2 linked regions of the Homo sapiens genome follow. The protein of the gene in region 1 purifies or fractionates together with the protein of each later gene. This does not show direct contact. Each region holds a gene or a part of one and is shown in the gene's direction. Other genes may lie near its edges. The genes, in order: LCP1 and TTL.

The links.
Region 2: the proteins of LCP1 (region 1) and TTL purify together in Homo sapiens (affinity purification with mass spectrometry; 2 studies listed by BioGRID and IntAct, with this or other methods). This does not show direct contact.

Annotation. Positions count from the first base shown.
Region 1 is NC_000013.11:46,174,405-46,191,202, reverse strand, and holds the start of LCP1 (plastin-2), read left to right. Parts: upstream 1-9,025; 5' UTR 9,026-9,092; exon of another isoform or gene 9,093-16,798.
Region 2 is NC_000002.12:112,493,880-112,510,396, forward strand, and holds part of TTL (tubulin--tyrosine ligase), read left to right. Parts: intron 1-263; coding exon 264-496; intron 497-7,326; coding exon 7,327-7,462; intron 7,463-9,032; coding exon 9,033-9,302; intron 9,303-16,517. UniProt on the Homo sapiens protein: Catalyzes the post-translational addition of a tyrosine to the C-terminal end of detyrosinated alpha-tubulin.

The DNA of each region.
Region 1 (16,798 bases):
GGGCTTACGTTGTTGCTCTGAGGCTTGGAAGATGGATTGAGCCAAAGTTTGGACATTTTTCTAGCAGCAATGAGTAACTTCAGATGCACAGGGAGCAGGAGAATGAAGGGAGAGAACTGTAGCCTTATGAAGAGTCATGTGGTGCTGCTATGCAGGATGGAGAGAGGAGCACTGAGACAAAAAAAAACAGGGAAATCAGGAAGCTAATCCAAATGTGATAAGGCAAAAGTGGCAAAGAAAGAACAAAACCGAGAAATACTATGAGGGAAAAATAAATGAAACTTTGACCACATGTGGGAATTGCAAAAAAAAAAAAAAAAAAAGTAGGACTCAAGGAGTACTCTGGACCATCCTGGGGGTGTAGTCCACTCTTGGCAGAATGAAGGAAGAGATGGGCTAGGGGCAGCTTCTTTGTCAAATGAATGATGAGTTCAGTTTTAGACACTGGAGATTATTATTGGAATTTCAAAATAGACTTGTTTATTTTTCACTTAAATATGAATAACTGTTCATGGAGAAGAGAAATTGGAAAAGGAAAGGATTGTTAACAGTGTCAAATATTGCATAAAAACAAGGACATTGAAGACTGAGTAGAGTCCAGTTTCAGAAGAGTGATGAGAACAGCAGCCCAATAGAGATTCTATGGAAATGAACAAAGGTAGCATTTCTTAAATTCATAATCCTCTTGTCCAAACCACTCCTCCTGAATTCCTCATCTCATTGAATGTTACTACTCTCTACCACCCAGTTTCCCATGCTCCTTCCATTATATTCAATCTCTCTCTTCCTCTATAGTCAATCAGTCTTTTCTTCTCCTTTCTGCCTATCAACTGTCTCTGGAATTCACCCACATATCATTATCCCACTGCCACCATCATCACCTTATGCCCTGCCAAGGCAAAGGCCTCTGGGATGGTCCAGTCTTTATTCTCCCCACTCTTCTTATAGTCCTTGCCATCTTATTCTTCTCACTGGAGCTAGGGGGATTTTTCTAAAACTCAAGTATAATTGTGTCACTTTCCACTTATGACTCTGTTAGGAATTGTGCCCTACCAAAAATATTGAAGTGCTAAATCCAAATGCCTATGAATGTGGCCTTATTTAGAAATAGGGTCTTTGCAGACAATCAAGTTAAGATGAGATCATTAGGATGGGCCCTGATCCAATATGACTGTCATCTTTTTTAAAAAGGGGAAATTTAGATGCAAATGTGTAGATAAAAGCAGAAATTGGGGTGATGCCTTTATAAGCCAAGGATAACAAATGTTGCCAGCAAACCCACCAGAAGCTGGGAGAGACACATGGAATAAATTATCTCTCACAACTCTCAGAAGGAACCAGTCCTACAACACTGTAGTTCCATATTTTTAACTTCAGAACTGTGAGACAATTCATTTTCGTTATTTTAAACCACTCAGTTTTTGGTACTTTGTTAAAACAGCCCTAGAAAGTAAATATGGATCCTAAAATGGCTCCCCATTGCTTGCAGGGTGGTGGTTAATTTTTCATGTGTCAACTTGACTGGGCCATGGAGTGCCCAGATACTTGGTCAAACATTATTCTGGGTGTTTTGGTGACAGTGTTTTTGGGTGATGTTAACATTTAACTTGGTAGACTGAGTTAAGCAAATGGCCCTCCCTAAGGGAGTGGCCCTCATCCAATCAGCTGAAGGCCTGAATAGAGCAAAAAGGTTGACCACCCCTTGAGTAAGAGAGAATTCTTCCTGACTGACTGCCTTTGAGGTGAGACTGGCTTTTTTCTCCCTTTAGACTCAAACTGAAACGCTGGCTCTTCCTGGGTCTCAGGCCTGCCAGCCTTCAGGCTAGAACTACACCACTGGCTCTCCTGGGTCTCCAGCTTGCTGAATCGTCATGAAGATCTTGGGACTTGTCAGCCTCCCTAATCACATGAAGCAATTCCTTGTAATAAATCTCTTTATACATACACATACATGCATACATAAATACATACACACACACACACATACACACACATCCTATTGTTCTGTTTCACTGGAAAACTGATTAATACACAGGGCAAAGCCCAAATTCCTTAACACAGTTAAAAGATCCACTATGACTTGGTCTCTGCAAAATCCTCCAGCTTTTCTCTTTCTCTGCACTTTCCCCCAGCTTCGCTCTCTTGACTGCAGTAGCATCCAGCTTTGGTCATATTTTTGACATACCTTTATTTCTCCCACCTGATCTTTCACACATGCCATTCCTTTATGCTTATAGTACATTTCCACCTTTCCTTTCCATGTCATTCTTCATTAATTTATTCAACAAACATTTCTGAAATGTTGGATATGGTGTTTAGAAGTTAATAAAGCAAACACGGCCCTTGGCCTCATGGAATTCCTAGTAGGAGACACCAATATCAAATGAGGCAATAAGTATACCAGAGATGTCAGCAGTATGTTGGAGACCATGAAATAGGTGATAACACTAGCCTTAACACATATGGAAAAGCTGAATTCTAACCCTATAATGAGAGACGCCAAAGAGAAGTAATTCAAATCCCACCATGGACACTCAGCAAAGCTCAGAACTCCGAGGCACCAGATACCTTTGGAGGCAGAGTGCAAGAGGGACTTGAAAAATAGGAAGATTAGTAGAAAGTTTATATAAGGAGCAGTAAGACATTCCCCACCTTATCCCCACCCACATGTTGCTTTATAAAATAAAAAAAGAAACATTCAGAAAAAAAGAGTTTTTAGCTATTGCTATGGTTTGAATGTCCCCTCCAAAACTCATGTTGAAATTTAATTGCCAATGTGATAGTATTAAGAGGTGAGGCCTTTAAGGGGTGATTGGCCATCAGGGCACTGCCCCATGTAGAATTGATGCCATTATAAGAAAGCAAGTTTATCCCAGTCTTGCTTTCTTGCCTTCTTGCCTTCTGCCACGGGATGAGGCAGCAAGAAGACCCTCATAAGATGCTGGCACCTTATATTGGACTTCCCAGCCTCCAGAACTGTGAGCCAATGAATTTCTGTTTATTATAACTTACCCAGTCTGAGATATTTTGTTATAACAGCACAAAACAGACTACGAGAGAAATTTTGAGGTGAAAGCAGAAATAAAACGTTCAATGGAAGTTTTGAAGAAAATGTAGAAAAATTCTCTCTGACAGTAGAATAGGAAGGCTAAGAGGCAGGAAATGGGAGGAAAAAAAGAAAATTAGAAGATTAATCCAAGAGGCATAACATGCAAATAAATGTAATCCCAGGGAAATAGGGCATAGGAAACAGAGGAAAGGAAATGAGAGATGGAGAGAGAAAATATTTCCCAGAACTGAGAGACTTGAATTTCCCAATTAGAAAAGACCACTGAGTAACTTGCACAGTAGATGAAAACAGACTTACACTAGGACAAATCACCAACAATTTTCAGAACACCTGGCATTAAAAAAAATTCTAAAAATTTTCAGAGAGAAACCAAAAATGATGTGAGAGGGACCATAAGTCAGAATGATATCAGATGTCTCAACAGCAACCTTGGAACCTAGAACACACAGGAACAATCCCTTCCAAATTCTGAGAAAATGATTTCCAGTGTGGATTTCAAAGAATGGAGATCGTTTTCAGCTATAAAATGTCTCAAGAAATTTACGTTCCATAGAACGTTTCTCAAGAATCTACTAGAGGATATGCTCATTAAAACAAGGAAGTAGACAAAGAAAGTGGATGGCATGTGGTCCAGAAATAGGAGATTCAGCCTAGATGGAGAATAAAGGAGTCCCCAGAGTGATGAGGTAGGGAAGCTTCTAGAAGGCAGCTGGGCAGCAGGACCGAACAGAGGAAGGGCCTCTCCAAGGGGGAAACAAGGAATGGATTCATTTCTTGATGTTTTAAATTGAATTTTAGCTCTGTTGGAGAGTTTATACAGAATTAGTAATAAGTACGTAGAAACCTAGCATATCAAAAAAAGATACAAAAACATAATGCAAAATATTCCTAACTCAGTTATGAATATTTTGAGTTACTGTAAAAGCTGAGTATTGATTTAAATAAAAGGGTATTATAAACTGTTCTGGAGGATGATGGGAAGGTTAACATGTATATGTTGGACTGGGGGATGTGAGAGGGTCAAATATTTATCTCTCAAGTAGGAAGGAAAAAATATATGAACATATATATACATATACATAAATATATGTAGGTATCTGAACCCAATCAAGATACACCATAAGCATAACATCTAGAAATATGTAATAAAATAACAGAAGAATTAGCTAAAACTGTTCAAAATACTTGGTTCTAGGGAATGGGAATCAGAGGTGAAGGAGTGTGTCGGGAGACTGGTGTTTCATGAGAAGCCTTGAGGTAATATTTGACTTCTAAAACCAAATACATATATTACTTTGATTAATAAATTAAAGAAAACATATGTCCACACGCACAAAATGTACACAAATGTTAATTGCAGCATTTTTATAATATCAAATAGTAGGCAGCATCCAAATATCCATCAGCTGATGAGTAAATAAAATGTGATATATTCATACAGTGGAATAGCATTCTTCCATAAAAAGGAGTGAAGGTCAGGTGCAGTGGCTCATGTCTGTAATCCCAGCACTTTGGGAGGCCGAGGCAAGAGGATCACCTGAGCCCAGGAATTCGAGACCGGCCTGGCCAACATGACAAGACCCTGTCTCTATAGAAAAAAAAAAAATTTAAATATCCAGGTGTGATGGTGCGTGCCTGTAGACCCAGCTACTCAGGAAGCTGAGGCGGGAGGATGGCTTGAGCCTAGGAGTTCAAGGCCTCAGCAAGCTATAATCACACCACTGCACTTCAGCCTGGGCGACAGAGTGAGCCCCTATCTCAAAATAAATGAATAAATAATAAAATGAAGTAGTGACATGTTACAACATGGATGGACCTTGAAAACATGCTAAGTGAAAGAAGCTCGTCACAAAAGAGCATGTATTGTGTAATTCCCTTTATATGAAATGTCCCGAATAGGCAAATTTATAGAGAGAGAAAATAAACTAGTGGTTGGCTGTGGCTGGGAATTTGGGAGATGGGGGTGAATGGGGAGGAATCTCTAACAGGTACAGAGTTTCTTTTGGGGATGATGAAAATGTTCTGGAATTATATAGTGTAATTGTTGCACAACTCTGTTAAAATACAACAAACCACTGAATTGTATACTTTTTAAAGGTGAATTTTATGGTATGTAAATCATATTGCAATGAAGCCATTATTTTAAAAATTAAAGAAAAAAATTAACAATCATACCTAATTCATAGAGTTGTTGTGAGGAATAAATGAAATAATGGATGTTAGGGGTCTAGTCCAGAGCCTGACGTAAATATTAAGCGATTAGTTAACACGTACATAGGATATACTACGTGCCAGGCACTCTTCTAAGTTCTTTACATATATCAATTCACTTACCCCTTGCAACAACTGTCTAAAATAGACACTGTTCTTACCCCCATTTTATAGACTAGGAAACTGAGGCCAGTGCAAGTAACTAATTTGCCCAAGATCACACAGCTAGTACAACAGTAGAGCTGGAACTTGACCCCAGCCAGCTGGCCCAGCATCTTTACTCTTCACCACTTTGATGCTCCCTCTCTCTGCCTCCCAGGTCCCATGTCTGGGTTAGTGCTGTGTGCTCCTAGGGACGCTGCTTTTCGTCTGTTGTGCTTCCAAGTAGATAACTCTTCACTTGCCTTTTTTCCTTGTCTGTGTCTTCAACTACAGTGGACATTCTACAATGGCAAGGACTGTACCCATCTTAATTCATCTTCATTCCCTGCCCATGATATGTTGGGATGAGGGTGGGCTGCAGAGTGAAGCAAAGGTGTTTTTCTCTTCATACAAATCCCATGAGTGCATGGAGAGGAAGTGGGGAGAGCTGAAGATGCTAGCATTAAGATGCTAGAGAAACACGAGACAATTGATGGAGCAAGATATCTAAGGAAGTAGAATATTAAGAGTGAGATAGTGTTGAAACACTGACCTTGGGAAGAAAGAAGAATGCCGCTTCCATTAAGACTGAAAGAGAGGAGGAAGAGGTGGATATTGTGGAAGTAGAGAGGAAGCTCATACCAGACGACTTGGATCATCTCAGTCAAGAAGGGGCAACAGAAGAATCTTGGGCCAGGACAAAGCATAGGAGGGTGAAGTGGAAGGTTGAGGCAAGAGGAGAGAGTTTAGAATAAATACCCAACTTTTTGGGGTCTGTGATCTCTTTACTAATACAATGGACCCTTCTCCCAGAAAAAAAGTACATACACACAAAATTGTGCATTTAGTTTTAGGGGTCTATGGACTCCAGGTTGAGAATGCCTGTTCTCAAGACTTAGTAAAATTGAATAGAAGTATTTCTGAAAGTAATTTGAAGTCAAGCATCTTGACTTTTTAGCATTCCAAGTTTGTGTTTCTGTGACTTTCCTCAGCAATATTTAGAGGCCTGAGAGTAGCAGGTGATCTGATATCTGGGACTGAGGCCAGAGGCTTCAGGGCAGGAGAGGGTGGGATGAAGTCTGAGAGGGTGGTAGGGCTTAGAGGAAGGCAAAACCCAGGCCAGGAACAGGTGGCAGTGGAGGCTCATAGAGGGTGGGCTGAGAAAGGTCCACTCCGGCTTCAGGCCATAAGGGGGCGCACTGTCTGTACAGAACATAAAAACGTAAGAAAACCAAAAGTCAGTCTTCTGTTTACTAGTACTATGCTGCACAAGCAATTTAAAACACCAACAGCAAAAAAATACACTTCTCTGAAAAAGTCTTGGTCTAGGACCTAAACAATTGCCTGAAACTGGGTAGACTTACACCAATGAGAGGCAGATAAAGAGATTAAGATTGAGGGAGTAGGGCAGGGCTTGCAATGGTGCCGGCCAGGATGTGGCTGAGGGGGTGTGGGTGCCTGCCGTGGATGCTAGGGTAGAAGACGACTCTATTAACTGGGTGGCTGTAAGCAGTACCCAGGTCAATGCCTTTCATCTTCTACAACCTCGACGTTGCCTGGAATCCTAAATCTTTTTCTTCACTTAACAAACATCACCTCTGCTCAAATCTGCAACTGCTTTGATATCACACTGCCTTTTTCACCCCTCTATTATAGATGGCATTTATTTACTTACATGTTTTTTCCCCACTAGACTATACTCCTTGAGAACAGCGATTGTGTCTTATTTATTTCTGAATCACCAATTCAGACAGGCATGCAAACACTTGCTGAACCAATGCACAAATATATTTTGCTCTTCTTCATAGATTCCTCCGGCCTCAGATGACCAGGCACCACTAGATACAGAACACTGTGCTTTCCTTCTCCAAGGTAAAGGAATAAATATCTGTTCCCCTTCATGAAGTGTTACTGTTGGGCCTTTATGCCATCCTGAAGCCACCAGGATGTGGAACCAGATCAGGGAGGTCCACAGTTACAACCCCTTGTATCTGTAACACCAGCAGGACATTATCTACAGAGTCCTGCTGCAGGGCCCCGAATGAAGACAGCATTTTGCTGCTTTGTAGCGTGAGCAGTGCTGTAACAGTGATGCATGGATGTTCCTCTGGTGTCCTGAAAGAATGTAGGTGCTTCTTGAAAGCTCTCTGCAACTTATTAATTGGGAGTGATTATGCGATGGAGAAAACAGAGTCCCATCACCCCCTCAGTCTTCCCTGGGAAATCACAAGAGGGCTGATAGCTCTCTGTGAGGTGAACCGTTTCTAGAATCCCCACCGTCTCGTCCTGTTCTTCCGCCCACCCAGTTCCTCAAGATAGCCCCTGTGGGCTTCTGATGAAGTCACCACACCACTGGCTAATGAAGTAGATAAACCAGAACAGTTTGGTTTAACATTTAAGGTCAGAAACAGGAACTTTCTAGAGGAGAAATCAAAAAAGCAAAAGAAGTATAAGGGCAGCCCTCCAACCAGTCAGAATACCGTGACCACCTGAGAGGCCCGTGGCCCAGCGGACACGGACGCATGTCAACTCTGGAGCAGATATCTTCAGCGCAGCATCTGACCTGGGAGTACAGCCACATACCCTCATTCCTAAACGGCAGATTGACTACTGGAGTCACACACAGTCTCCGGGCAATGTGGAGACATGTCTAATATTTAGTCAACATAACTCAGGGTGCCACAGTCTTCACAACTGTTGTGAGCACTTGAGGATGCTCCATTTGAAGATAGGAATTTGCCCTCAAGCATCTGGGGTTTGGGTACAGAACAGAGCTTCCCCTGCCACCACCTGCTAATTTTATAAAATGTGCATTCAAAAAAAAATCCTGCCTGTAAGAAGGAATTAAGCTACCCATTTAAATATAACAGCTGCCTGTGCAATCTACTGCTGCTCTTTATAGGAAACGCTTAAATAATTGAGATACTTAATTGGGTTAAAGAGATCCCTAGCACATAGATGTTCTATAAATAAAAGAATGAGTAAATAATCTAGTAACCTTCCTTTTCATGTCCTTCACTTAAAGAGATCGTTCTGTTTTGTTTGCACCAATAAGATCACTGTTAGAGGACTCCAGAGAGGTTTGATTTCAGGTGGGGTGGGGCTTTCCCAAGGAAGTCCCTTTTCATTTGTTTCAGGTGTACTGCCACCTTTTTCCCTGGCTCTTTCACTAAAAATGAAAAATTTGTTGATCTTTGCTGTAAGTAGGTAGGCATCTGGGCTTTGCTTTTGCAACTAGAGTCAAAGAAGTCAAGTTATCAGGCTGATCTTGCCTTGCTATCTAGAATCAGAAAGGTTTAAGTAGCCCAGGGACTACTCAAAGACAGCTGGAGGAGAAAGGGAGAGAGAAAAATGCTTATAAAGAGGTGGGCAAAAGAGCGGGACCTTGTCTCAAAAAAAAAAAAAAAAAAGAGGAAGTGGTAGGAGGTGTCTGAATTTCACTGTGACCTGTTCTGTCAGGTGATTTTTGGTGGGGCGGGGACATGAAAAAAAAGTTAAAATGTCCTTATAAAGACAAAATCTTTTTCTTTCCTGGCTGATGATTTGTCATTCTAGTCACTTCCTGCCTTGTGACCACACACCCAGGCTTGACAAAGCTGTTCTGCAGATCAGAAAGAAGGGGTTCCTGGTCATACACCAGTACTACCAAGGACAGCTTTTTTCCTGCAAGGTAAATGTTCTTCATGTGTTTTTGTTGGTTTTAAGCGCTTGTGATGCACTTCGGCACTGTTTCTGTGGATTGTGGGTTTTGCCTTCAGGGGACCAGAGATCTGAGCATGTCACCTGAGACCTCTGTGATTCCTGCCACTGTCTAACTGGCCAGGACATCTGCCGCCACCTCGCGTGGCCATCCAAGATGGAGCACCTCGGCTCTCTGGGCTGGGTTCTTCTCAACTTATCTGCAGTTATCACCCCTGCCCAAAATTAAGGTTTCTTTTTCCTTTTAAAACCAAACCATGTTCTGGTTTATTTCTATTGCTCTATTTCACGGAGGCTATTTACTGTGATTTTATCTTCTTTAAAATGTTTTCAGGAAAAGCGCGTATTGATAATTTAGATTGTATGGCTTATTGGCCCAATGGGGGTAGTTTAATTTTAGTTCCTGCGGTTCTGTTTTTCTAAAAAACTTCTTTACAGTACTTTAGTGGATAAATTATCTAGAGTCATATGTTACTGAATGTGATACTGGTTATTTGAGTGATTTTTGGCGCCAAGGGTTTTTAATGGGTGTGCTTTATAACCACATGGAATTAGAGGTTTTCTCTTTTCCATTTGTTCTCTAAAAATAAAAGCAATTTGTATAATGCTTAATTGTAGTGTTTTTGTAGGATTGTCTGAATTATTTGTTATGCTTATGACCATATCAATGAATATTCACTCAAATTCTGGGAGAAAGGCTTTTATCTACAATAGAAATTTTTACACAGTTGATATGGGATATTTATTTCAGAAACTGCCCAAACATAGACACTTTGGATTTTGTAGTATAAGCTTTTACTTAATTACCACTATCACATAACACTAAGAACCATTGACAAATGATAACTATAAAAGCCATTCAGACTGGAAATGCGAACATTAATCAGGATGTTTATCAAAACCGAACTTTTCTTTTACACAGCAACTTGTTTTCTAAAATTACTCTGTCAGAACTATCAGTAAGCAAATAAAGGTGGCTTATCCACACACATCTTGATTTTGAATTTACATACATTTGTCATAAGTTTGGTTTCTATTAAGTATAATTGTTTAAAGAATGTCTGTGTAGACAAATTTGAATAGAATTAATCATTTACCTATAAATGTGAATTTCTGGAAACTGCAAAATGTGACCACCAATGTTACTTTGCACATCTCACCTGAATAGTTTCAAACAAGCAAAAATGTGAAACTGAGATAAGAGGGACTTGAACCCCGTAAAAGAACAGACTAAAAATATGTTGTGTCTTATTTTAAGTAAAACTATTAATGAGAATAAAATAAATTCGAATGTGAAGGAATGTCAGTATTTTTCTTATATTTACGAAGGAATAAAAAAGAACTATGCGAAAGTTAATTCAAAATATAAAGGTCCCCTGTTTAAAGTTAAGTTTACATTGCTAAAGCATCAACCCCATATGTTACAAAGATATTCCTCTTCATTCTAGCTCACCCCCAGGAACATCAGGGGAAAAATCTTCTAGGTCTTGCCCTTTGAACAAGCACTGCTGTGGTGGGATGGAGTTGTGCCTAGGAGGACATTTCCTTAGCAATCCCAGAGACCCTTTTCTTTGTAGCATTTAAATTTTTGTCTCTTTTGTAAATTATGCCTTGAAACAATTGGTAATTTGGGAAACAATTTCAGTGCTTTAACTTCATTTATAATTCTATCTCTGAACCCTTTGGGGAAGGGAAGACCAACAAGTAAAGTCTCATTTACTTGTTGTTAAAGTACCATTTAACTTGGAGAGGACAGGAAATTAATAATAGCACTCAATAATTATGAGCACGTAGTGTAAGCAGCTACTCTTTATGCATTACCTCGTTTAATCCTCTCAGCTACCTTTAGAGATAAGGAATGGGCTAGATAATTGAAGGAACCGGCCATAGGTCACTGGGCAGTTGGGGTGGGGGGCAGTAGATGGCCAGGATTTCAGGCTCCTACTGACTGTGTGTGTTACAGATCCTCCCTTCCAGGCCAGCATATTTTTCTCAGAGGTAGGTGATTATAGACTTTTATTACTGAAGCTAGCTAACAAGATCTTGGCACTCACAGTTTTAAGAGAGAATAAAAGAGAGAGAGCAAGAGAAAGAAGAGAGAGAGAGAGAGAAGAAAAACTTTGTAATAAATTTACAAACATTTTTATTTTTATAAATAAGAGATACCATTGCAGGTTTTATATAATAATGGGCTGAAGAACTATTTTTAAATTAATGCATAATTTTACTAAAGAATTGTGTGCCTTTACAAACTTGCCTCGACCCACTTCCCCAATCTTATTTCTTGTCACTTCCTTCTGTTCAACCTCCCACTACCCCATCCCCTCCCCCGCCACTGCTAACCCACATTTTGGTGCACCAGACCACAAGCCACCAGAAAGTTCCATTCTCTTTCACCTTTTTTCACTGCAACTGTTTCTTTAATTGCATTCTTCTTTATTTTTAAAACTTCTGATCATTTTTCAAGGCGGACTTCAAGAAACATACCCTTTTGGAGGCCTTCCCATCTTCTCCCTGCCCCCACTAAATGTTTCTTTGGTGTGCATTTGCTCAATGCTTTGATCTTGGAGTAAGTATAACATTAATCACATTGTCTTAGTTTCAAGTACTTATTTGCTGACAGACCTGAGCTCCTTCTCCATCTTTCCTGGCACATGTAGATACTAAAGGCATTTATTGAATTGAAAATTTGTCACAAGTATTTTTTTTCTCAGCTTCTTACATACGCATGAAAGACTTTGATTGTACTTATTAACTTAATATTTACTGAGTTTCCATTTATTGCTATGAATGAAGATGCAACAATAATATAATATTTTGCATTCTACCATGTTTCAGCTTTACCGAAGCCCTAGTCTCATTTTAGCTTCAAAGTATCATATAGACATTGACCTCAAGAAATTTAAAAAATTGTACAATGACTAACAAACAGGGAAAATTACAATCTCATTTTTTTAGTATAAATACATTGGTTGGGCCAAAACTTAGCTACCCTTGCCAAAACTATATACCCAATAATGGGCCTCTTTGATGACAAAGAACACAAGGGCAGTTGTTAACTTTTACTTAGTCACTTTGGATTATTCTCAGAAAATTCTCAAGTCAACTTCTCCTTGTTACCTAAAGAGTACAGGCCCTTCTGTGTATACAGGAGAGATGGCAAGCAACTTTTAAAATCAGCTTAGGTAAAATAAAATTAAGAAATCTGCTTATAAGGTTATACTTATGAAGAGTCAAACACTTATAAAATAAGATTATAAAGGCTTGGACTTTATTACTAATAGTAGATTTTATAGTAGAGTGACATTATTTCAGTTAATCTAATTTTCTTCCTAGTGTTTTTTTATCTGCTAGTTTCCCAACTTACAGATATCAAATGAAATGATACTATTTCATCTGTATACTGAACACTGCAGAAATAAACATTAGAATTAGGACACATCAAAATATAAAACTAATCAGTGTCCACAGATTTGAAGAGTTTCAAGTGTTCCTATTTTGCCAGATGGAAGCGCACTCCTTAAAAAAGTGTTAATGTTCTACAGGGTCTTCATTTTGAGGCTCTCGGAAGTCACCTCCTGATTAGATGTTGGTTTCCTAGGGATATCTCCCTATAGCTGCTGTGGCCGTGGTGTTCCCCAGATGGCATCTCCTTGTTGCTTTCCTCAGTTCCCTTCTGATCCAACTTCCTGCCTTATACTATTGACTGTTCCTGTTGTTTTGGTTTGTCAGTTTCAATGCTTACATCAGTCTGCCCAGAAATTGCATAACTGCTCCATCTTGTAAGATATCGGTGGGGGATGGGGGGGAGTGGAAGGCGCTTCAATTAATCATCCTAATAATAACGTTAATACTTACATTGAATCAGGTGTTTTTCTAAGTGCTTTAACCCTATGAAAGCATTTAGTTGTCATACAGTCCTGTGAGGTAGTGTCTGGTGTCCTCTTCATATTTGAAGGCAAGTTCATTCATTCACGTATTTTATTTAATTTTCTACAATTGGATCAATTTTGTCTTAACTGTTGAATTTCAAGGCAACTTCCTGGAATAAACAGGTAGCAAACCATGGTGCTTATTTGTAACTAAGCCCTCAAGTTGAGCTCAAATAATCATAATACTTCCCCAAATAAATGCATCTATATGATAAGTGCTTTTATAAACAAATTATTCTGTGTCATCATATCATCATCATCATCATTATCATCACCATCAGCAGCAGCAGCAGCAGCAACAGCATCAGTAGTCAGCCCCTCTGTACACTTGACTGAGTAGAAGTTGGTTGTTAACAATTACAGGCCTCTGCATGGGTCACAAAACATGATCTCCACCCTCAAAAACTTTAAAAGGTTCTTAGTCTTTTGTTTGTTTGTTTGTTTGTTTTTTGAGACAGAGTTTCACTCTGTCGCCCAGGCTGGAGTGCAGTGGCGCGATCTCGGCTCACTGAAACCTCTGCCTCCTGGCTCACCCAGGCTGGAGTACAGTTGCGTGATCTCGGCTTACTGAAACCTCCGCCTCCTGGGTTCAAGCGATTCTCCTGCCTCAGCCTCCCGAGTAGCTGGGACTACAGGCGCCCACCACCACGCCCGGCTAATTTTTTGTATTTTTAGTAGAGACGGGTTTCACCTTGTTAGCCAGGACGGTCTCGATCTCCTGACCTCGTGATCTGCCTGCCTCGGCCTCCCAAAGTGCTGGGATTACAGGCGTGAGCCACCGCGCCCGGCCTTTAAAGTTTAGAATAATTTTAGTCAAGTGGCATTCACATTTTCTAGTCTGTTGTGACTGATAGACATGAATAGATTAAACATTCTACTTTTTATACCCAAGTACACATATCTATGATTGTATAGTAATGGCCAAATATAAGTGTCCTAAAAACTGAGAAAGAATGAAACATTGCTTTAAATGTTAGTGGAAGAAGAGAGGTAAAAGTGAACCACTTACTGGGTTTAAGTAAGTTTTGCTCAACTTCAGAGCCATGGCTGTGTCAGCCCCACTTGCAAGTACAAGGAGCCTGTTACTCAAAGATGGTCAGTTGTTCTTTCTGGCGGAAGGAAAAGCTATGTTAAATTGGGGAACTAGCAAACCCACAGTTCTGTGGTTGCAGCATTGATTCTTATTTCAGCATCTGTTACATGGACAGAAGGGAGGGTCTCCCTCCCTCTCTCTCTCTCGCTCTCTCACACACACACACACACACACACACACAAATAAACACACATACACGGAAACACACACACACACTCACTCACACACTCCTTCTTGACTGGATAAGCTAAAGTGAAAAAGAGATTATGTTTTCCATAGCAGAAAAGCTGACACCAAATTCAGCAAGCAGATTAATTATGCATGTGAATTGCAATCTCCCAGATAATTTGCTTTCCTTCTTTTTCTGGTTGCACTTTCTAGAGGGAAGTGAATTAATGGAACAATTACCTTGTATTTAAATAATACCCTGCATTTTGTTTCCTCAGTCTGGTAGTAGTCACTAAAATTTATCCAAGCTATGTATCCAAATGTGTGAAGTAAAAGGATACACAAATGTTATTTGTATAAAATTTGCATATTTTCCCTATTCAGCATTCCTTAGGCAAAGTTTAAAATTAGAAGTGGATCTTTATTAACCTCAGGTGCAACTTTTTTTCCATAAAAACCTTTTATAATAATTCATGAGATTATAATAGATGTGTGTGCATTCAATATAGCTTCCATCCTGAAAATGTTTTTTCAGTTTTTATTTATTTTTAAATTGACATATAACGGTATGTATTTATGGGGTACCTAGTAATGTTTCAATACATACAATGTCTAGTGATGAGATCAGGGTAATCAGCATATCCATCATCTCAAACATTTTTTATTTCTTGTGCTGGAAACATTCAATCGCCTCTCTTCTAGCCATTTTAAAACTATGTACTGTTAACTATAGTTATCCTATAGTGCTATAGAACATGAGAGCTTATTCCTCCTGTCTAGCTATAATTTTGTATCTAAACAAATCTCTCCTATCCTCCACCTTCCCCCTACCCTTCCCAGCCTCTAGTAATCTCAGGTGTAACATTTAAAAAGTAGATCCTTTGTACCTCCTTGACATCATCTGCTCATATCACCCTCACCAGAAAGGCCAGCTTGAACAAAGAAGAGTGGGATATAAATTCTTTATAGAGAAAGCTAGGTAATAGGTGCAAAGTGGGAGTAAGGAAAAAAGAGAAGATCATGCCTGTAGTTTTGCACTGTTGAGCACTCTTTTGTCATCTTAAAAATGCGAACTGAACTTCCCCCACTGTTTCTAATGCTTTATAAACAGTTTTAAAGTTTCCCTTTGAAAATATGGAATATGGTAGGCACCTTGGAAAACTTTGGATTTTTTCCTTTTCTTGCTGTCATTCATGTTGGGACTGTTCCTCAAAATATCATGGATTCTGTTTCTTTTCTGTGACCACTGAGAATGACAGTTGTGATACTTCATCTACCTGGTGATGTTCACACAGTTTTTCTCCTCCCTCCGTACCCACCCTACTGTTCACTGCACGCAGTTCTTCCTCCAGTACCATATCTCCAGTACCAGTTCTTTAAAGCTGAGTGTCTGCAGCTCCCAGGCACAAAAGAGGCAAATGTGGTATAAAGAAAGGGGAGCAAAGGTAGAGACAGATTTGGATTTATATTCTGGGCTCTTGGTAAATGTGGAGGCTGAGCAAGTCTCTGGAGCCTCTGAAGTTCAGTTTCCTCATCTATAAAATCAGGCAAGTGCTATCTACTCGCTAGGTGTGATGTGGGTTATTTTCCCCTTCCATTTTCCCATGTTGTCGTCTAGGTAGATATGGAGCATATCTACTCCACCCAGCGTCACCACTGACTTACTGAGCCCCTAATATTTACTAGGCATCATGCCAAACGCTTGAAAGATAATTACTCTTTTATTTTCATACATAGCTAGGTAAAGTTGTTATTAATTATATCCTTATTCCAGATGACCAAGCTGAGGTTCAGGGAGGGTTAAGTGACTTGTCTGGGGTCACAGAACCAGTAACTGGCAGAGTCAAGATTCACACCTTTCCTCTCTCTCATTTTATGTTGGCAGTTTCTTAAAAGTATAATCCATGTCTATTTAAACTGTTTTGTATCTTCTAACATGATCCACTAGTTGCTTCCTGATAATATGTCTATATACTTTTTTGTGTTTCCATGATTATTGAATGATTATTTGTAATTCCACATTTTCTTTCTTTTTTCTTTTTTTTTTTTTTTTTGAAGATGGAGTTTTCGCTCTTGTTGCCCAGGCACAATCTTAGCTCACTGCAACTTCCGCCTACTGGGTTCAAGAGATTCTCCTGCCTCAGCCTCCTGAGTAGCTGGGATTACAGGCACACACCACCACGCTCAGCTAATGTTTTTGTATTTTTAGTAGAGACAGGGTTTCACCACATTGGCCAGGCTGGTCTTGAACTCCTGACCTCAGGCGATCCCCCTACTTCGGCCTCCCAAAGTTCTGGGATTACAAGTGTGAGTCACTGCACCCGGCCTATAATTCCACATGTTCTATCAGGAAGAGATCCCAAGTCTCCTTTTGTTAGGTCGGCTGGTATACCAAACATATTTGAGAAATAAATATAAATGCTTGAGGATTTTATGGTGGGAAGTCTTTAAAATAATAGCTGTGAAGATATTAGATTAGGCTAT
Region 2 (16,517 bases), on another chromosome or scaffold:
TGCATTTTAAAAGGAGCATAAGTGTTGGACATTAAGCCTTTTGAATTAATTGGGGTATGCCTTTCAGGTTGCATCTAACAGCTGTGCGCTCCCCAATAACGCATTTGAGCTTTGTCCAGGGAGACTAAGAGCAAATAGAGATGTTAGAAGACTGAGTCATGCTTTGCCTCCCGGAAAGTCTCTGGGGGAAAGGAGTGGCCTTTCTGAAGGGAGTGACAAAGTGCACTAAGAAGGGAGGCTGATCCTCTTCTGTCATCTGCCAGGCTAATCAAGACAAGCCCTGAACTGGCTGAGTCCTGCACATGGTTCCCTGAATCTTATGTGATTTATCCAACCAATCTCAAGACTCCAGTTGCTCCAGCACAGAATGGAATTCAGCCACCAATCAGTAACTCAAGGACAGATGAAAGAGAATTCTTTCTCGCCTCTTATAACAGAAAGAAAGAGGATGGAGAGGGCAACGTTTGGATTGCAAAGTCATCAGCCGGTGCCAAAGGTGAGTTGGCACTGCTGTCCCCTTCTCTATTCCTGGTAAGTTGCTATTGTGATGTATTTAGATGAATGACCCTATTTTAATCTGAATCATCGAAGGTTGAGACCGTGTCTAGTTACATAGTTATAAATACCCATCTATGTACTGATGCCTTCTAAATGTCTATCTCCAGTATGGTCTTTTCCTTTAAGCTCTAGATCCATTGACACCCTCACCATCTCTAAAAGGCATTTCAAACTGAACACATCTGATACAGAACTTTTCATTTCCTTCCCAACTTTGCCCACGCCAGCCTGCTCCTCCTTCACGCTTTCCACTTAGTATATGATCCCACTATTCACTCAGTCTCTGAAGCTTAAAACCTAGGATTCATCCTTGACTACTGTATTCTTTACAATCTACTCCTAATGCATTAGCAATTCTTGCTAGCTCTACCTTCAAAATATATTCTGAATAGACTATTTCTTGCCGTTTCCCCTGCTTCCCCTCTAAATCAAAACCCCCATTCTTTTTACTGTGTGTAACTGCCGAGCCTGCTCTCAACCAGTTCTCCTTCCAGACAATAATGTTTTCAAAACGTAAATCTAATCATGTTACTTCCTACTTAAGACTTACCAGCTGGCTTCCTAATGCAATTAGAATGAACTCCGGATTCCTAATGGTAGCCTGCACCATTTGACATTTGCCCATATCTCTGATCTCATCTCCTTCTATCCTCAGCTTTGCTCTCTGCACTGTAGACACAAAGACTGCCTAGTATCTCTCGAATATTCCAAACTTGTCTCTGTACCTAGAATGTGCTTACATGGATTGTTTTGTTTCTCTTACCTCAGTTGCTGGCTCCTCAGGGAAGGCTTTTCTAATCTAAAATAGCCTCCGTGTCCATTGCTTTCTTTCCCTTTCCCCTGCCTCATTTACCTCCTGACATTAACCTTTTCCTGGCACTATACTACTTCTCTGTCCATCTCTCCTATTATTCTGTAGGCTTCACACAAACACAGACATTCTGTCTTATTCATCCTTGTACCTTCCTCATAGGCAGTCAACAAATATATGTTGAATGAATGCATGTAAGGGGTAAGGTTTATAATGTTAACTCAGGCTGAAAATAGAGGCAGTTCCCAATGTAATGAACACATAAACAATCTCTGTCTATGTTAATGCCCTCATACGCTCTTTATAAAACCATTCTGGCTGGGCATAGTGGCTCACTGCCTGTAACCCCATCGCTTTGGGAAGCCGAGGCGGGCGGATCACAAGGTCAGGAGATTGAGACCATCCTGGCTAACACGGTGAAACCCCGTCTCTACTAAAAATACAAAAAATTAGCTGGGTGTGGTGGCGGGTGCCTGTAGTCCCAGCTACTCGGGAGGCTGAGGCAGGAGAATGGCGTGAACCCGGGAAGTGGAGCTTGCAGTAAGCTGAGATCGCACCTTCAGCCTGGGTGACAGAACAAGACTCCTTCTCAAAAATTAAAAAAAAAACCATTCCATTTTGAACTCACTTCTTGTATTGCCTTGGAAGACATCTAGCCATTGGTACTCATTTCTGTTCCGGGTCGAAGGGACCTCACCTTCTTTTCCACCAGCGATGAGACAGGAAGGCCTCAACTGGTATCCCTGAAAGGGGGAGAGTTGGACTCTTGCCACAAGTCAGGTATCTCACCTACTTCTCTCTCCCCTCTTGTGACCTTTTCTCAACTACTGCCCCCTAGTGTGGTTCCAATGGTAAATGACGGATTTGGAAGAGGAAATAGACATCCCTTCTCCTGTGGGTTTGGGATTGGAGTCAGAATGGCCACTGTGAGGACACCTGGTGATCCCTGGACCCTCACTAAGACAAGACTCAGAGGGACACCAAGCAGCAGGGGGAAGTCAAGAGAGAATAAAATGCTAAAGACTTTTTGCTTTAAGAGTTGAAGAGATATATATTTGATATATATTTATTATGTTTGGAAACCATAAAATGAAACCAATAGGATGAATGAATGGTTTTTATTCTTGTTAAACAAGTATTTATTTGGTACCCACTACATGCTTTGTATAGTTGGCTCAACCTTCAAACTCTACCCATTATGAAGCTACTGTTTACCATGTCCACTGCCTATTTCTAATCTAGCCACCTTCACCTCTCACCTGGAGCGTGGGAACACACTACATCTATAACAGAAAATTATTGTTTAGAAACAACCCCATTATTCCACTATTACAGATAACAGTAGTAAATGTCTTTGCTGTAGATGACCCTTGTTTCTTTTTTAATTTTAATTTTTTATTTTATATATATATGTGTCTGTGTGTGTGTGTGTGTGTGTGTGTGTGTGTGTGTGTGTGTGTATTTTTTTTTTTTTTTTGAGACAAGGTCTCACTTTGTTGCCCAGGCTGGAGTGAGATGGCATGATCTCAGTTCACTACAGCCTCGACTTCCTGGGCTCAAGCGATCCTCCCAACTCAACCTCTTTTTTTTGAGACAGAGTCTCACTCTGTCACCCAGGCTGGAGTGCAGTGGTGCCATCTCAGCTCACTGCAAGCTCCGCCTCCCAGGTTCACGCCATTCTCCTGCCTCAGTATCCCGAGTAGCTGGGACTACAGGTACCAGCCACCACACCCGGCTAATTTTTTGTACTTTTAGTTGAGACAGGGTTTCACCACATTAGCCAGGATGGTCTCGATCTCCTGACCTCGTGATCCGCCCGCCTCAGCCTCCCAAAGTGCTGGGATTACAGGCGTGAGCCACCGTGCCCGGGCCCGCTCCCATCTCAAGCTCTTGAGTAGCTGGGACGACAGCCGTGCACCACCACACCCTGTTAATTTTTTGATTTTTAGTAGAGATGAAGTCTCACTGTGTTACCCAGGCTGTTCTTGAACTCCTGAGCTCAAGTGATCTTCCCACCTCAAGCCTCCCGAAGTGCTGGGATTACAGGCATGAGCCATCACACCCAGCCTTGACTCTTGTTTCTTCTTAAAAATTTCATTAGAGTAAGTTTGAAACATGAGATTACTTGGTCAAATGATATGAAGCCTTTATGGCTCTTGCTCTGTGTTATCCTCTTGCTTTTTCAAAGGGCCGTGAGCTAACAGGGAGCAGTTCATGACGAACTTTTACTAAAAGTATCACCATTTTTGTTTTCTTATTTTGTAGGTATAAAACGATACATAAAATTCAAATTTATTTTATAATTTTTGATACTGTTGTATCAAAAAATCTGAGTCTGATTCCTAAGGGAGATGAAACAGCATGAGTCATGTGTGTAGGGGAAGAGAATAAGGGAGCTTTTCCAGGTTGATTTGCAGTTTCTTGTTCAAGAAGCTCACCAGATGGTCGAACAAGTGACAGGAAGAAGATAGTTGAAAAGGGCGTTAACGTTTGGGAAAGGTGGATCATTGAATTAATGAACTGAATTGAATTCATTTATAAAGAAAGCATGAGATCCAGGTAGAAATCAGCTATAAATCTAAAGCATAGATCAGAAGATTCTAGCAAACTGAAACCACAACGAACTGTCACTACACTTTTATTAAAATGGTTATAATAAGAAGTGGTGACAACTCACTAAAGAGTGAGTTCAGCCATGTTACGGGATATGAGAGCAACACACAAAACTTAATCACATTTTTATGTGCCAACAATGAACATGTGGAAACCAAAGTTAAAAACACAAAACTACTTAGCTGGGCGCAGTGGCTCACACCTGTAATCCCAGCACTTTGAGAATCCAAGGCGGGCGGATCACCTGAGGTCAGGAGTTCGAGACCAGTCTGGCTGACTTGCTGAAACCCTGTCTCTATAAAAATACACAAATTAGCCGGGCTTGGTGGCAGTCACCTGTAATCCCTGTTACTCAAGAGGCTGAGGTGGGAGAATCGCTTGAACCCAGGAGGCAGAGGTTGCAGTGAGCTGAGATCGCACCATTGCACTCCAGCTTGGGCAAGAGAGCAAAAATTCCGTCTAAAAAAAAACCAAAAAACTACAGTACTACTTACAGTCACCCTAGAGAAAATGTGATGCTTGGGTATAAATTTAACAAGACATGTATAGGCTCTGTGTGCTAAAAATAGTAAAATGATTATGAAGGAAGTCAAAGAGGACCTAAAGAAATGGACAGACATACCGTGTTCATGGATTGCAGGACAGTATAGTAAAGATGTCAGTTCACCCTAAACTGGTCTATAGGTTTATGTAGTTCTTATCAAAATGTTAGCAACATTTTTGTATAGACATGGAGCTTCTTTTAAAATTTACATGGAGGGGCCGGGCACGGTGGCTCACACTTGTAATCCCAGCACTTTGGGAGGCCAAGGCGGGTGGATCACCGGAGGTCAGGAGTTCGAGACCAGGCTGGCCAACATGGTGAAACCCTGTTCCTACTAAAAAATACAAAAATTAGCCAGGCATGGTGGCGGGCGCCTGTAATCGCAGGTATTTAGGAGGCTGAGGCAGAAGAATCGCTTGGGCCCAGCCTAGGCGACAAGACCAAGACTCCATCTCAATCAATAAATAAATAATAAAAATTCATATGGAAAGGCACAAGCCCTAGAATAGCTTAAACATCTTGAAAAAGAAGAATATAAGTGAACATGCTACCTGATATTAAGATGTATTTTAGAGCTATAGTACTTAATACACTGTAGTATTCATGAAAAAATAGAAACATAAATCAGTGGGGCCAGGCACGGTGGCTCTCGGCTGAAATCCCAGCAGAGGCCAAGGCGGCTGAATCACCTGAGGTCAGGAGTTCGAGACAAGCCTGGCCAACATGGTGAAACCCCATCTCTACTAAGAATACAAAAAAATTAGCCAGGTGTGGTGGCGCATGCCTGTACTTTCAGCTACTCGGGAGGCTGAGGCATGAGAATTGCTTGAACCAGGGGGCAGAGGTTGCTGTGAGCCGAGATCACACCACTGTGTGACAGAGCAAGACTCTGTCTCAAAAACAGAAGAAACATAAATCAGTGGAAGAGAATAGAGAACTCAGAAATAGACCAAAACATATATGCCCATCTGATATTTGAAAAAGGTGCAAAAGCCATTCAATAGAGGAAGGATAAACTTTTCAACAAATTGTACTAGATAAGGTGGATATCAACAGGCAGAAAAATGAACATCAACATAAGCTTCACACCTCATACAAAAACTAACTCAAAATGGATCGTGGACCTAATAATTTTTCAGAAAAAAGGAGATAGGGCTTGGCAAAGAGTTCTTGAGCTTGACTCCAAAAGTGTAATCCATAAAAGTAAAAATTGATAAATTGAACCTCATCAAAATAAAACTTCTGCTCTATGAAACACCTCATTAGAGGATAAAAATGAGTTACAAACTGGGTGAAAGGATTTTTAAGTCATACATATGACAAGGGACTCAGATCTAGAATATGTAAACAACTTTCAAAACTTAACAGTAAACAACAGACACACAATCCAATTAGAAAAAGAGCAAACAGTAAGACCCCAGCTCTACAAAAAAAATACAAAAATTAGCCAATGTGGTGTCACACACCTGCATACGTAGTATTCCTGAGAATTGAAAATATATGTTCATAAAAACTTGTATGCAAATCTTATAGCAGCATTATTCATAAGAGGCAGACAAGAATGGAACCAATGCAAACGTCCATCAATTGATGACTAAATGAACAAAAATGACTTCAGCCATAGAAAGGAGTGAACATGATACTAATACACACTACAATGGGGATGAGCCTTGAAAACTTTGTGCTAAGTGAAATTAGACACAAAAGGCCACATACTGTGTGATTCCATTTATATGAAATGTCCAGATGAGACATCCATAGATACAGAAAGTAGATTAGTGGTTGTCAGAAGCTGGGGTGAGGAGGGAGTAGTGAGTGACTGCTAATAGGTACAAGAGTTTTTTTGGGGGGAGTGGTGAAACCGTTCTAAAATTAAACTGTAGTAGGCCGGGCATGGTGGCTCACACCTGTAATCCCAGCACTTTGGGAGGCCAAGGCAGGCAGATCACGAGGTCAGAAGACCAAGACCATCCTGGCCAACATGGTGAAACCCCATATGTACTAAAAATACAAAAATTAGCCAGGCATGGTGGTGCACGCCTGTAATCCCAGCTACTTGGGAGGCTGAGGCAGGAGAATTGCTTGAACCCAGGAGGCGAAGGTTACAGTGAGCTGAGATTGCGCCACTGCACTCCATCCTGGGCGACAGAGTGAGACTCCATCTCAAAAACAAACAAACAAACAAAGAAATAACAACAAAAACTGTAGTAATGGTTTAAAACTCTTGAATATACTCAAAGCCATTGAACTGTGCACTTTAAAAGGATAAATTTTTTGGTATATGAATTATACTTCAAGCTATTAAAAAGGATATATCAATTATTTAATGTTAATGGACAATTCCAATGTATCCAGTTTTTTCTATTGCAATGCTGCAAGGGACGTACTTGAACATTCATCTTTATGCCTTTATCTTCCTGGTAGTTCTATAAGATATAGTGAAGGAAGGGGATTTATTGTTGTTATAGTCTTTATTGTGGTAGCCAGTGACTAGTAATAGAATGGTATTTATTTTGAGTGCTTAGGCACTACGAATTTCTGTAAAACTGACGTTTCATGGTTGTAGCCAGCCAAGATAGCGTTGACACCTGTATGGAGAAAGAGTTGGTAGGATAATCCTGGGTGCTCTTGAGGGGAGAAGGGAGCATGTGGGGGACTGGAGTAAGGAAGGGAGGGAAAAAGGTGAGCGGGACATTGAAAGCCTCTTGTGGGGTTTTTGCTGTTCGTATTTCCTTTCTGGATTTATAGAGAGCTCTTGGTTTGAATTGGATTGGTTTGTCTTTTGCTTTTTCCCTGTTAGGTGAAGGCATTCTCATCTCCTCAGAGGCTTCAGAGCTTCTCGATTTCATAGACAACCAGGGCCAAGTGCACGTGATCCAGAAATATCTTGAGCACCCTCTGCTGCTTGAGCCAGGTCATCGCAAGTTTGACATCCGGTAATGCATTCATGTCCATAGCTTTTGTTTTTATTCATCTGAAAAAACTGCCATGGTATGTGGTGGGAAGGGGGACATGGAATATGAGGAAGCGTTTGACCATGTTTAATATGTTACCAAAATTGAGCACAGCTGAATGGAACTTACCTTCTGTACCTAATTTTCTATTTTTCTTTCTTGTTTTTTCCATCTAGAAAATGTTACTACGATTATGGATTTTCTTTTTTAAAAAATATTCTTTTCTGGCTGGGCACAGTGGCTCACGCTTGTAATCCCAGCACTTTGGGAGGCCAGGGTGGATGGATCACCTGAGGTCAGGAGTTCGAGACCAGCCTGGCCAACATGGTGAAACCCCGTCTCTAGTAAAAATACAAAATTAGCCAGGCATGGTGGCAGGCACCTGTAATCCCATCTACTCAGGAGGCTGAGGAAGGAGAATCACTTGAACCAGGGAGGGGAGGTTGCAGTGAGCTGAGATTGCACCATTGCACTCCAGCCTGGGTAACAGAGTGAGACTCCTGTGTCAAAAAAAAAAAAAAAAAAATCTTTTCTATAAAAATGACTTGTGGATTCAAAGAAATGAATATAAATGTATGGTCTTGCTCATGGAATAAACTGAGAGATGTGCATGGAACACGTAATTCAGACACAACAGGTTGTGCAACCTTGCCAAATAATTTCTCCTCACTTCATTGTTTGTGTCCCACTCTGTGGATTTTATGACCACACCTCAGGGGATTTTAAGTTTCTGAGCAAAGGGCTTGGCATGGAGAAAGAGGTTGTGTGGTGCATTCTAAAGCTAAACAGCCCTCCCTCTCCAACTTACCCTTGGCCTTGCTGTCAGCTCATTGCCAAGGACTCTGTCTCCTTGATTGCTTCATAACGATTTGTCGCTTCTTGAACATCAACATAGGTCAGATCATCTTCAGGAGGAACACTCTTTAAGATTACTCAAAGAGGAGACATAACAAATGGAGGTTTCATAGGTTAACCTTAAAATCCAACCCATCCAGGGCTTGGTGTGGTGGCTCATGCCTGTAATCCCAGCACTTTGAGAGGCCAAGGTGGGTGGATCACCTGATGTCAGTATTTTGAGACCAGCCTGGCTAACATGGTGAAACCCTGTCTCTACAAAAAATACAAAAATCACCCGGGCGTGGTGGCATGCGCCTGTAATCCCAGCTACTGAGGAGGCTGAGGCAGGAGAATTGCTTGAACCCGGAAGGCGGAGGTTGCAGTGAGCCGAGATCACACCATTGCACTCCAGCCTGGGCAACAAAAGCAAAACTCCATCTCAAAAAAAAAAAAAAAATCATCTGATTTTTTTATCTTTTGATCAAATTTCCCTGTTATTTATGGTAAAATGTTTTGTTTGCCTCATTGTAGTGATAACTCACTATCTTAGCTAAATCATAACATGCCTCTTATAGTTTTAGAAACTTCCTCCTTCCCTAGTTGCCTCCCACTCCTTACCTACCCCATAAAAGAAGTCAAGATGTGGGGATTGATGTATATAATATGCAGAAACTTTGGATGACTTGAGTAAAGCAGTGTTTTTGTTGAATTGCAGAAGCTGGGTCTTGGTGGATCATCAGTATAATATCTACCTCTATAGAGAGGGTGTGCTTCGGACTGCTTCAGAACCATATCATGTTGATAATTTCCAAGACAAAACCTGCCATTTGACCAATCACTGCATTCAAAAAGAGTATTCAAAGAACTACGGGAAGTATGAAGAAGGAAATGAAATGTTCTTCAAGGAGTTCAATCAGTACCTAACAAGTGCTTTGAACATTACCCTAGAAAGTAGTATCTTACTACAAATCAAACATATAATAAGGTAACTTAATTGTATCTTTTTGGATTACGTGTTTCTTCTTGAAGGAGCTTTGGCGTCTATGCCTTTCAAAGAATTGTTTCATATAAGTTGTCTAATTTATGGTCAAAAATTTTTTGTAATATTCCTTTATTTTCCTTTTAATGTCTGCAGGTTCTGTAATGATGTCTCCTCTTTCGTTTCTGATAATGGTTATATGTGTGTGTGTATGTGTGTGTGTGTGTGTATATATATATATATATTTATATATTTATTTATTTATTTATTTTTTTGAGACAGAGTTTTGCTCTTGTTGCCCAGGCTGGAGTGCAATGGTGCGATCTCGGCTCACCACAACCTCTACCTCCTGGGTTCAAGTGATTCTCCTGCCTCAGCCTCCCAAGTAGCTGGGATTACAGGCATGTGCCACCACGCTGGGCTAATTTTGTACTTTTAGTAGAGACAGGGTTTCTCCATGTTGGTCAGTCTGGTCTTGAACTCTTTTTTTTTTTTTTTTTTTTAATCAATAGTTTTCTTTATCATAGATTCAAAATTTTAAGCTTATTTTCCTTCCATTCTTTAGGCATTCAACACGTTGATGAAAAGTACAATGTCAGTCTACTTCTCATTCTTTTATCCGTAAACTTCTTTTTTTTTTTTTTTTTTTTATTATACTCTAAGTTTTAGGGTACATGTGCACATTGTGCAGGTTAGTTACATATGTATACATGTGCCATGCTGGTGCGCTGCACCCACTAATGTGTCATCTAGCATTAGGTATATCTCCCAATGCTATCCCTCCCCCCTCCCCCGACCCCACCACAGTCCCCAGAGTGTGATATTCCCCTTCCTGTGTCCATGTGATCTCATTGTTCAGTTCCCACCTATGAGTGAGAATATGCGGTGTTTGGTTTTTTGTTCTTGCGATAGTTTACTGAGAATGATGGTTTCCAATTTCATCCATGTCCCTACAAAGGATATGAACTCATCATTTTTTATGGCTGCATAGTATTCCATGGTGTATATATGCCACATTTTCTTAATCCAGTCTATCATTGTTGGACATTTGGGTTGGTTCCAAGTCTTTGCTATTGTGAATAGTGCCGCAATAAACATACGTGTGCATGTGTCTTTATAGCAGCATGATTTATACTCATTTGGGTATATACCCAGTAATGGGATGGCTGGGTCAAATGGTATTTCTAGTTCTAGATCCCTGAGGAATCGCCACACTGACTTCCACAATGGTTGAACTAGTTTACAGTCCCACCAACAGTGTAAAAGTGTTCCTATTTCTCCGCATCCTCTCCAGCACCTGTTGTTTCCTGACTTTTTAATGATTGCCATTCTAACTGGTGTGAGATGATATCTCATAGTGGTTTTGATTTGCATTTCTCTGATGGCCAGTGATGATGAGCATTTCTTCATGTGTTTTTTGGCTGCATAAATGTCTTCTTTTGAGAAGTCTCTGTTCATGTCCTTCGCCCACTTTTTGATGGGGTTGTTTGTTTTTTTCTTGTAAATTTGTTTGAGTTCATTGTAGATTCTGGATATTAGCCCTTTGTCAGATGAGTAGGTTGCGAAAATTTTCTCCCATGTTGTAGGTTGCCTGTTCACTCTGATGGTAGTTTCTTTTGCTGTGCAGAAGCTCTTTAGTTTAATGAGATCCCATTTGTCAATTTTGGCTTTTGTTGCCATTGCTTTTGGTGTTTTGGACATGAAGTCCTTGCCCACGCCTATGTCCTGAATGGTAATGCCTAGGTTTTCTTCTAGGGTTTTTATGGTTTTAGGTTTAACGTTTAAATCTTTAATCCATCTTGAATTGATTTTTGTATAAGGTGTAAGGAAGGGATCCAGTTTCAGCTTTCTACATATGGCTAGCCAGTTTTCCCAGCACCATTTATTAAATAGGGAATCCTTTCCCCATTGCTTGTTTTTCTCAGGTTTGTCAAAGATCAGATAGTTGTAGATATGCGGCATTATTTCTGAGGGCTCTGTTCTGTTCCATTGATCTATATCTCTGTTTTGGTACCAGTACCATGCTGTTTTGGTTACTGTAGCCTTGTAGTATAGTTTGAAGTCAGGTAGTGTGATGCCTCCAGCTTTGTTCTTTTGGCTTAGGATTGACTTGGCGATGCGGGCTCTTTTTTGGTTCCATATGAACTTTAAAGTAGTTTTTTCCAATTCTGTGAAGAAAGTCATTGGTAGCTTGATGGGGATGGCATTGAATCTGTAAATTACCTTGGGCAGTATGGCCATTTTCACGATATTGATTCTTCCTACCCATGAGCATGGAATGTTCTTCCATTTGTTTGTGTCCTCTTTTATTTCCTTGAGCAGTGGTTTGTAGTTCTCCTTGAAGAGGTCCTTCACATCCCTTATAAGTTGGATTCCTAGGTATTTTATTCTCTTTGAAGCAATTGTGAATGGGAGTTCACCCATGATTTGGCTCTCTGTTTGTCTGTTGTTGGTGTATAAGAATGCTTGTGATTTTTGTACATTGATTTTGTATCCTGAGACTTTGCTGAAGTTGCTTATCAGCTTAAGGAGATTTTGGGCTGAGACGATGGGGTTTTCTAGATAAACAATCATGTCGTCTGCAAACAGGGACAATTTGACTTCCTCTTTTCCTAATTGAATACCCTTTATTTCCTTCTCCTGCCTGATTGCCCTGGCCAGAACTTCCAATACTATGTTGAATAGGAGCGGTGAGAGAGGGCATCCCTGTCTTGTGCCAGTTTTCAAAGGGAATGCTTCCAGTTTTTGCCCATTCAGTATGATATTGGCTGTGGGTTTGTCATAGATAGCTCTTATTATTTTGAAATACGTCCCATCAATACCTAATTTATTGAGAGTTTTTAGCATGAAGGGTTGTTGAATTTTGTCAAAGGCTTTTTCTGCATCTATTGAGATAATCATGTGGTTTTTGTCTTTGGCTCTGTTTATATGCTGGATTACATTTATTGATTTGCGTATATTGAACCAGCCTTGCATCCCAGGGATGAAGCCCACTTGATCATGGTGGATAAGCTTTTTGATGTGCTGCTGGATTCGGTTTGCCAGTATTTTATTGAGGATTTTTGCATCAATGTTCATCAAGGATATTGGTCTAAAATTCTCTTTTTTGGTTGTGTCTCTGCCCGGCTTTGGTATCAGAATGATGCTGGCCTCATAAAATGAGTTAGGGAGGATTCCCTCTTTTTCTATTGATTGGAATAGTTTCAGAAGGAATGGTACCAGTTCCTCCTTGTACCTCTGGTAGAATTCGGCTGTGAATCCATCTGGTCCTGGACTCTTTTTGGTTGGTAAACTATTGATTATTGCCACAATTTCAGAGCCTGTTATTGGTCTATTCAGAGATTCAACTTCTTCCTGGTTTAGTCTTGGGAGAGTGTATGTGTCGAGGAATGTATCCATTTCTTCTAGATTTTCTAGTTTATTTGCGTAGAGGTGTTTGTAGTATTCTCTGATGGTAGTTTGTATTTCTGTGGGATCGGTGGTGATATCCCCTTTATCATTTTTTATTGTGTCTATTTGATTCTTCTCTCTTTTTTTCTTTATTAGTCTTGCTAGCGGTCTATCAATTTTGTTGATCCTTTGAAAAAACCAGCTCCTGGATTCATTGATTTTTTGAAGGGTTTTTTGTGTCTCTATTTCCTTCAGTTCTGCTCTGATTTTAGTTATTTCTTGCCTTCTGCTAGCTTTTGAATGTGTTTGCTCTTGCTTTTCTAGTTCTTTTAATTGTGATGTTAGGTGTCAATTTTGGATCTTTCCTGCTTTCTCTTGTAGGCATTTAGTGCTATAAATTTCCCTCTACACACTGCTTTGAATGCGTCCCAGAGATTCTGGTATGTGGTGTCTTTGTTCTCATTGGTTTCAAAGAACATCTTTATTTCTGCCTTCATTTCGTTATGTACCCAGTAGTCATTCAGGAGCAGGTTGTTCAGTTTCCATGTAGTTGAGTGGCTTTGAGTGAGATTCTTAATCCTGAGTTCTAGTTTGATTGCACTGTGGTCTGAGAGATAGTTTGTTATAATTTCTGTTCTTTTACATTTGCTGAGGAGAGCTTTACTTCCAACTATGTGGTCAATTTTGGAATAGGTGTGGTGTGGTGCTGAAAAAAATGTATATTCTGTTGATTTGGGGTGGAGAGTTCTGTAGATGTCTATTAGGTCTGCTTGGTGCAGAGCTGAGTTCAATTCCTGGGTATCCTTGTTGACTTTCTGTCTCGTTGATCTGTCTAATGTTGACAGTGGGGTGTTAAAGTCTCCCATTATTAATGTGTGGGAGTCTAAGTCTCTTTGTAGGTCACTGAGGACTTGCTTTATGAATCTGGGTGCTCCTGTATTGGGTGCATAAATATTTAGGATAGTTAGCTCCTCTTGTTGAATTGATCCCTTTACCATTATGTAATGGCCTTCTTTGTCTCTTTTGATCTTTGTTGATTTAAAGTCTGTTTTATCAGAGACTAGGATTGCAGCCCCTGCCTTTTTTTGTTTTCCATTGGCTTGGTAGATCTTCCTCCATCCTTTTATTTTGAGCCTATGTGTGTCTCTGCACGTGAGATGGGTTTCCTGAATACAGCACACTGATGGGTCTTGACTCTATCCAACTTGCCAGTCTGTGTCTTTTAATTGCAGAATTTAGTCCATTTATATTTAAAGTTAATATTGTTATGTGTGAATTTGATCCTGTCATTATGATGTTAGCTGGTGATTTTGCTCATTAGTTGATGCAGTTTCTTCCTAGTCTCGATGGTCTTTACATTTTGGCATGATTTTGCAGTGGCTGGTACCGGTTGTTCCTTTCCATGTTTAGCGCTTCCTTCAGGAGCTCTTTTAGGGCAGGCCTGGTGGTGACAAAATCTCTCAGCATTTGCTTGTCTATAAAGTATTTTATTTCTCCTTCACTTATGAAGCTTAGTTTGGCTGGATATGAAATTCTGGGTTGAAAATTCTTTTCTTTAAGAATGTTGAATATTGGCCCCCACTCTCTTCTGGCTTGTAGGGTTTCTGCCGAGAGATCCGCTGTTAGTCTGATGGGCTTTCCTTTGAGGGTAACCTGACCTTTCTCTCTGGCTGCCCTTAACATTTTTTCCTTCATTTCAACTTTGGTGAATCTGACAATTATGTGTCTTGGAGTTGCTCTTCTCGAGGAGTATCTTTGTGGCGTTCTCTGTATTTCCTGAATCTGAACGTTGGCCTGCCTTGCTAGATTGGGGAAGTTCTCCTGGATAATATCCTGCAGAGTGTTTTCCAACTTGGTTCCATTCTCCACATCACTTTCAGGTACACCAATCAGACGTAGATTTGGTCTTTTCACATAGTCCCATATTTCTTGGAGGCTTTGCTCATTTCTTTTTATTCTTTTTTCTCTAAACTTCCCTTCTCGCTTCATTTCATTCATTTCATCTTCCATTGCTGATACCCTTTCTTCCAGTTGATCGCATCGGCTCCTGAGGCTTCTGCATTCTTCACGTAGTTCTCGAGCCTTGGTTTTCAGCTCCATCAGCTCCTTTAAGCACTTCTCTGTATTGGTTATTCTAGTTATACATTCTTCTAAATTTTTTTCAAAGTTTTGAACTTCTTTGCCTTTGGTTTGAATGTCCTCCCGTAGCTCAGAGTAATTTGATCGTCTGAAGCCTTCTTCTCTCAGCTCGTCAAAATCATTCTCCATCCAGCTTTGTTCTGTTGCTGGTGAGGAACTGCGTTCCTTTGGAGGAGGAGAGGCGCTCTGCGTTTTAGAGTTTCCAGTTTTTCTGTTCTGTTTTTTCCCCATCTTTGTGGTTTTATCTACTTTTGGTCTTTGATGATGGTGATGTACAGATGGGTTTTCGGTGTAGATGTCCTTTCTGGTTGTTAGTTTTCCTTCTAACAGACAGGACCCTCAGCTGCAGGTCTGTTGGAATACCCTGCTGTGTGAGGTGTCAGTGTGCCCCTGCTTGGGGGTGCCTCCCAGTTAGGCTGCTCGGGGGTCAGGGGTCAGGGACTCACTTGAGGAGGCAGTCTGCCCGTTCTCAGATCTCCAGCTGCGTGCTGGGAGAACCACTGCTCTCTTCAAAGCTGTCAGACAGGGACACTTAAGTCTGCAGAGGTTACTGCTGTCTTTTTGTTTGTCTGTGCCCTGCCCCCAGAGGTGGAGCCTACAGAGGCAGGCAGGCCTCCTTGAGCTGTGGTGGGCTCCACCCAGTTCGAGCTTCCTGGCTGCTTTGTTTACCTAATCAAGCCTGGGCAATGGCCGGCGCCCCTCCCCCAGCCTCGTTGCTGCCTTGTAGTTTGATCTCAGACTGCTGTGCTAGCAATCAGCGAGACTCCGTGGGCGTAGGACCCTCTGAGCCAGGTGTGGGATATAATCTCATGGTGCGCCGTTTCTTAAGCCGGTCTGAAAAGCGCAATATTCGGGTGGGAGTGACCCGATTTTCCAGGTGCGTCTGTCACCCCTTTCTTTGACTCGGAAAGGGAACTCCCTGACCCCTTGCGCTTCCCAGGTGAGGCAATGCCTCGCCCTGCTTCGGCTCGCGCACGGTGCGCACACACACTGGCCTGCGCCCACTGTCTGGCACTCCCTAGTGAGATGAACCCGGTAAGGTACCTCAGATGGAAATGCAGAAATCACCCGTCTTCTGCGTCGCTCACGCTGGGAGCTGTAGACCGGAGCTGTTCCTATTCGGCCATCTTGGCTCCTCCTCCTGGTCTTGAACTCTTGACTTCAGGTGATCTACCCCCCTCGGCCTCCCAAAGTGCTGGGATTACAGGCGTAAGCCACCATGCCTGGCTAATTTATATTTTCCCTCTATTTTGCTTGGACAGATTGACTAAACATTTATCAATTTTATCAGTCTTTTCAAAAAATTAGCTTTTGGTTTTATTGGTTTTCTCTGTTGTTTTTCTTTTCAGCTTCTTTGATTTATGCACTTTATCATTCTCTTCCTTTTGCTTTTTGGAGGATATAATTTACTCTTTTTCTAGTTGTGCTTTTTGTTTGTTTTTTAAGAGATGGTGTCTCATTTTATTGCCTAGGCTGGAGTACAAGTGTGATCATAGCTCACTGCTGCTTCAAACTTTTAGGCTCAAGGGATCTTCCTGTCTCAGCCTCCCAAGTAGCTGGGACTACAGGTATACACCACTGTGCCTGGCTAATTTTTTTATTTTTTGTAGAATTGGGTCTCACTGTCTTGCCCAGGCTGGTTTCAAGCTCCTGGGCTCAAGCAGCCCTCCCATCTTGATCTCCCAGAGTGCT